2 separate regions of the Homo sapiens genome follow, and region 1 is linked to region 2. Evidence: fine-mapped expression QTL. A gene starts in region 2. The other region holds a variant in brackets. All regions are shown on one strand. Distances are between the middles of the regions. Region 1 holds the start of SLC26A1 (solute carrier family 26 member 1). Region 2 holds the start of DGKQ (diacylglycerol kinase theta).

The links.
Region 1: its variant is fine-mapped to the expression of DGKQ in whole blood (INTERVAL, PIP above 0.99).

Annotation. Positions count from the first base shown.
Region 1 is chr4:992,635-995,527 of GRCh38, forward strand. All of the region lies in intron 2 of IDUA (alpha-L-iduronidase), which reads left to right. It overlaps SLC26A1 (solute carrier family 26 member 1), which reads right to left and starts at 770. Exons shown (of 3, transcript NM_022042.4): 1 at 667-770. RefSeq lists enhancers at 107-918, 919-1,730. The variant C/T (reference allele first, on the strand shown) is at 1,664.
Region 2 is chr4:972,324-975,216 of GRCh38, forward strand. DGKQ (diacylglycerol kinase theta) reads right to left here and starts at 1,246. Exons shown (of 23, transcript NM_001347.4): 1 at 889-1,246. The coding sequence starts at 1,159. RefSeq lists an enhancer at 1-390 and silencers at 625-1,074, 1,175-1,514.

The DNA of each region.
Region 1 (2,893 bases), 20 kb after region 2:
GACACACTGTCCCGAGGCAGCACCGAGAGGGCCCAGCCCGCTGCACACAGTCACCCTGGGCCGGCAGAGCCGGAAGGGCACCTGACCTTTCCCTTGATCTCGGAAAACACCGTGGCGTTAGGGAGGCGGTGCTTAGAGGCCTGACTGGTCCCACGTGAGGCCTCGGGTCTGTCCTGTTTGCAGACTCCAATGTACTTTCACTTTAAACATTCTTCTCAGCGACGTTAGGCAAAGACTTTGCTCCCAGGACACCAGGTGCCCAGGACACCCTGGAGCCTGGGCTGAGCCTGCTGTTTGCACGCTGGCCCAGGGTGTGCGAGCTCCAGTCTCCTGGCGGGTGTGTTGGGGCAGTGAGCCCAGCCTGGTAGGTTGACACATGCAGGCTGGGCACAGCACCCCTGGGGCACAGAGCGGGGGTCCTGGCCCTCAGGCAACATTGCAAGAGTTGTGTCCCCTTCCCTGGAAGACCCCACCACACTGGGTCCCTGGATGCCCTGAAGCCCACCCCAAGCCCCTGGGGTCCAGGTGTGTGGAATGGGGACAGTAGGGCCACCTGCCTTGAGCCTGAGGGTGCCCCTAAGAAACCACGAGTCCAGGGCATTTCTGGCCTCGGCTCCCACGCCCCCCTCTGCTGCAGCTGAGATCTGGGCCCAGGATGGTTCTTACCTGAGGGAGTCCTCACAGGCGCGGAGGGCCCTGGGATGACGAGGGGCTGGCAAGACCACCGAGGACCGCAGGGCCCTCTGGCTCCCGCGAGCAGCGGGGAGAGTGGGGGTGGTGGCGCCAACCTGCAGGCAGTGGTCTGTGCCCTGGACTCTGTAGTTCAATTATTTACCTACAGATTGCTGAGTCATGGGTTTCTCCAGCCATGTTACCTGATCGGCTGATCCGGGAGTTGAACTGTAATCAGGGGCTTGTAGGAGTTAGAGCTGTGTGGGCCTCTGAGGAGCTCCCAGCCTCCCAGGAGCCGCTGCAGCTGTGGCTCTGCGGCCCTGCCGGGGGGGCTTAGGGACCAGCGGGAGGCGGGGGCTCAGGGGCTGAGCACAGGTAAACCTTCAGCTCTGGGGTCTGGGGTCGAGTGCAGCAGCCTTCAAACCCAGGCGGGGCTGAGGGAGGCTTGGTCTCCGTGTCCAGTCGCCGGACACCCTCCTGGTCCTGCAAGGAGCCAGCCTGGTCCAAGCTGGAGCAGGGCAGAGGCTGACAGCCGGCTCAGCCCAAGGCTGCCGGTGCGTGCATATGCGTGTGTGCTCGCGTAAGCCCTGTGTGTGGTGCTCACCGCCCAGGGCGAGGACTGCCGGGGTCAAGGTGCCGTGACTGGCCAGGAGTCCTGGTCTGACTGGACCCAGCACCGACCCACAGCGCCTGGTCACCCTCACGGCTCCTCTGCCCTCCCCTCTACCACAGACCAGGACCGGCAGTGCCTGCCTCATAGGGCTGGGGTGAAGATAAATGATTTTTTTAAGTGAACTAAATTAGGCCCACACGTGAAAATAAGGGTAAGCTGCTTTTTAAAAGGAATTATTAGCCAGGCACGATGGTTCACTCCTGTAATTCCAACACTTTGGGAGGCCTAGACAGGAGGATCGCTTAAGGCCAGCAGTTCAAGACCAGCCTGGTCAACATAGTGAGACGCCCCCCACCTTTTCTTTTTTTTTTTTTGAGG[C/T]GGAGTCTTGCTCTGTCACCCAGGCCGGAATGCAGTGGTGTGATCTCGGCTCACTGGAAGCTCTGCCTCCTGGGTTCACGCCATTCTCCTGCCTCAGCCTCCTGAGTAGCTGGGACTACAGGCGCCCGCCACCGCGCCCGGCTAATTTTTTTTTTTTTGAGACGGAGTTTCGCTCTGTTGCCCAGGCTGGAGTACAGTGGCATGATCTCGGCTCACTGCAAGCTCTGTCTCCCGGGTTCAAGTGATTCTCCTGCCTCAGCCTCCCGAGTAGCTGGGACTACAGGCACCCGCCACCACGCCCGGCTAATTTTTTGTATTTTTAGTAGAGACGGGGTTTCACCATGTTAGCCAGGATGGTCTTGATCTCCTGACCTCGTGATCCACCCACCTCGGCCTCCCAAAGTGCTGGGATTACAGGCTTGAGCCACTGCACCCGGCCGCCCCCTGCCCCCCAACCTTTAAAAAATTAAAAGTAAAAAATTAGCTGGGTGTGGTGGTGTGTGCCTGTATCCCAGCTACTCAAGCGGCTCAGGTGGGAGCATGGCTTGAGCCCAGGAGTTTGAGGCTGCCATGAGGTATGATTAGGCCACTGCACCCTATCCTAGGCCACAGAGCAAGAGCCCGTCTCAAAAACAAACGCTGTCATTGGCCCAGCACTTTGGGAAGCTAAGGTAGGAGGATTGCTTGAGCCCTGGAGGTCCAGGCTGCAGTGAGGTATGTTTGTAGCGCTTCACTCCAGCCTACAAGTCTTTTTTTTTTTTTTTTGAGATGGAGTCTCGCTCTGTTGCCCAGGCTGGAGTGCAGTGGCACAATCTCGGCTCACTGCAGCCTCTGCCTCCCGGGTTCAAGCGATTCTCCTGCCTCAGCCGCCTGAGTAGTTGGGACTACAGGCGTGTGCCACCACGCCCGGCTAATTTTTGTATTTTTAGTAGAGACAGGGTTTCACTATGTTGGTCAGGCTAGTCTTGAACTCCTGACCTTGTGATCCACCCGCCTCGGCCTCCCAAAGTGCTGGGATTACAGGCGTGAGCCACCGTGCCCGGCCAGTTCTGTCTCAAAAAAAAAAAAAAAATTCCTTGGGAGCCTCAGGTCCCCCCGACTTTGACAGTGAGTACTGGGTGGGAGCCTGCACGGGGCACCTGTGGCCGGAGGGTGAGTGTAACGAGGGGCTGCAGCCCTCAGTGCTCTCCCATCCCAAGGGAGGCCAGGAGGCTGCGGTGGGTCCCTCGG
Region 2 (2,893 bases):
GGCCAGGCCACCTTGTGCAGCCCTGGGGGTCAGAACAACCATGCCGTTTCCACCACAGACGACATCCCCGTGTGAGGGGACAGTCTCCTCTGCGGACCCTGACCTGAGTGGACCCCTATCCCCAGAGAAAGGCCTGAGGCTAAGGATAGCCCCTCCCACCTCAGCGTCCCTGGCCAGGACACAGTAAGTGTCAAACGTCCAGAACTCCGGTCCTGTCCCTCGCTCCCTCCAGAGGCTGGGCTGTGGTCCCCCTGTCCCTCGCTCCCTCCAGAGGCTGGGCTGTGGTCCCCCTGTCCCTCGCTCCCTCCAGAGGCTGGGCTGTAGTCCCCGGGGCCCGCCTGCTTGCCGCGGGGGAAGATGAGAGCCAGCCCTGGGAGCACCCGGGCCCAGAACAGGGAAGGGCTGTCCTCACCCCAGCAAGAGCTGGGCAGCTGGGTGGAGCAGGGCTGGGACACGCGCACCGGGACGGCAGGGCCCGGCCTGGCTCTCCAGGAGGCTGGGACTCTGGGCCACAGCATGAGAAGGGCTAGGGCCAGGGGCCCAGGCCAGCCCTGCTTAGCCACACCTGCTGCCCCAGCCACTGGGAGAGGAAGCCGGCCATGGGGACCCCAGCTGAGGTCCCGCTCGCATCAGGCACAGCCCCTGGGTCGCAGCCATCGCGCGGCACTATGGAGATGCTGTCCGCACCTCCCAGGTGAGGAAGCCCGCAGCCTGGAGCGGCCCCACGGCGCACAGGCCCCGGCCGCCCCACGAAGGCACGTCCCGCGAGCAGGGCTGGGACCCCGCCCTCCACTCCCCCGAAAGCGCCGGTGCCACCTCCGCTCAGGCTCCCGCCCACGGGGCAGAGGCAGGGCTGCAGCCGGGTAGGCATCGGGCCCGGGCGCTCACCGTCGCACAGGAAGCCGGCCAGCCCCCAGATGAAGTCGGAGCAGAGGTGGCAGAAGGTGGGCTTGGTGAGCGTCACCTTCCGGAAGCTGTGTCCCGGCGCGGCAGCGGGGCCCGGGGCTCTGACGCCCGCCCGCTCGGGTCCCGGCCCCGGCCCCGGCCCCGGGCGCGCGCGGCCTCCTGAGCCCAGCACGGGGCTGCAGGCCGGGCTGCCGGGGCGCGGGGAGCCGCCGCCCAGCCAGGCGCGGGCCCCGGGCTCGGCCGCCGCCGCCATTCCCGGCCCGAGCGGCCCGAGCCCCTTTAGGTCCGCGCCGGGGGTACAGGAGCCGCCGCTCCACGGCCCGGTACACTGCTTCCGACTGCGCCTGCCCCACTGCGCAGGCGCGGGCCGCGGGGCGGGGCGGGGCGCTGCTGGTGGGCGGATCTGGGGGCTGGCGGGGCGGGGCCTGCTAAGGGTCGCAGCCGTGCCCCGTCGATGAGCGGGGCTGGGGGCGGGCCCTGTGATCGGGCGGGGCGGGGCCTGCTAAGGGGCGGGGCCTGTGCGCGGAGGCCGCTCGCGAACCAGCCGTGGGGAACTGGTCCACGTGGGCTCGGTTTGACCGCAGCCGGGCCAGACTTCTCCGGACGCCGCACGCGCGGCGTTGTACCTGCGGGGTCCCGGCCCGCGGCTGCGCAGACAGGCGCCTCCCACGCGAGACGCGGATGCTGTCCGAGGCCCCCGGCCGCGCAGGACGCCCCCGGCGAGGGGCAGCGCTGCGGGCCTCCCACAGTGGGTCCCGGAAAGCGGGGTTTGCGGTGCTTGGGCGGCTCCGTCCGTGGGGTCTTCGCACGCGCAGACTTGGCCCTGCCCGAGGCCCAGGACCCCCGGCGCCCGACCGCTGTCCTCACTGCAACGGGGGACCCGCCTGCGGCCCGGGGCTGTCCGCTCGCGACCCCCACCCGGGCCTCACGCCGAGCGCCCAGCTCTCCTGCCTCGTGCGCGCCACGGGTCTTGTTCAGGTGGCGCTGGTGTCCTTTGAGAGCCGCGTCCACGCGGGTCACCCCTCCCCGCCGCTGGCAGCAGTCTGGGTCCTTGCCCCCGTGGGCCTAACTGTGGATAGGAGTCTGCGAAGCGGGGGACCCCACCCCGGGCCACCGAGCGGGGACCTGCAGAGGGCAGGGCTCCAGGGCCATCGCAGCAGGCGGTCTCAGGGGGCAGGAAGAGCAGGGAAGGGCCTGTGGGGAGACGCCTGAAAGGGGCTGGGGGCTGTGGACTCTGGAGGGAAGGAGCCGGGAGACCTGTCCTAGGGGCTGTGCTGGTGAGGGCACCCAGACCACAGGGGATTCCAGGAATGGAGGGTGAGCCGGGGACCCAGTCTGAGGAGGGAGGAGCAGGCCCCTGAGATGGTGAGGGGGGAGACGCAGTCCTCAACCAGGGAGGATTCTGTTTGTCCAGAAGCTGCTGGTTGAGCTGCTGGGGTAGGACCCTGGGTGGACCCCAGGGTAAAGGGAATGCAGCCAAAGCTTCAGGGAACCTTCACCCTCCAGGAGCTGCGCTCTGGGACAGACAGCACCCTGAAGAATGAGGGCTGCCTGGGGGCAGCAGGAAGGCGTCCAGGCGGAAAGCCGGAGCAGAGGCCCTGTGGCAGGGTGCTCCGCAGAAATCCTTTCCTGATGCCCACCTATGCTGGGAGGCCCGGAGTCACCACCCCTGCATTCCCTGTCTCCTGTGCCAGACCCCACCCCGAGCCTGCCCTCAGCCAGGCCCCAAGACCCCCTGTGCCTGGGCCCTGGGAGAGCTAGGACCCAGCCTTGTGGCCCATGAGGAGGAGGTGGCTCACTGAGCCCGTGGTGCTCATGGCAGTGAACCACGGTGCAAACTGCAGCTGGCTTCTGAGGAAAAACTGTTTAAGGACATACCTTTCTCCATTTAGGAGACAGTGGAGAGCATCAAAAACATCTTAAAAAGGAAAACCCTCATCTACCATTTCTGCCAGAACTTTCTGCTTTCTGACGCACACGTTAATTA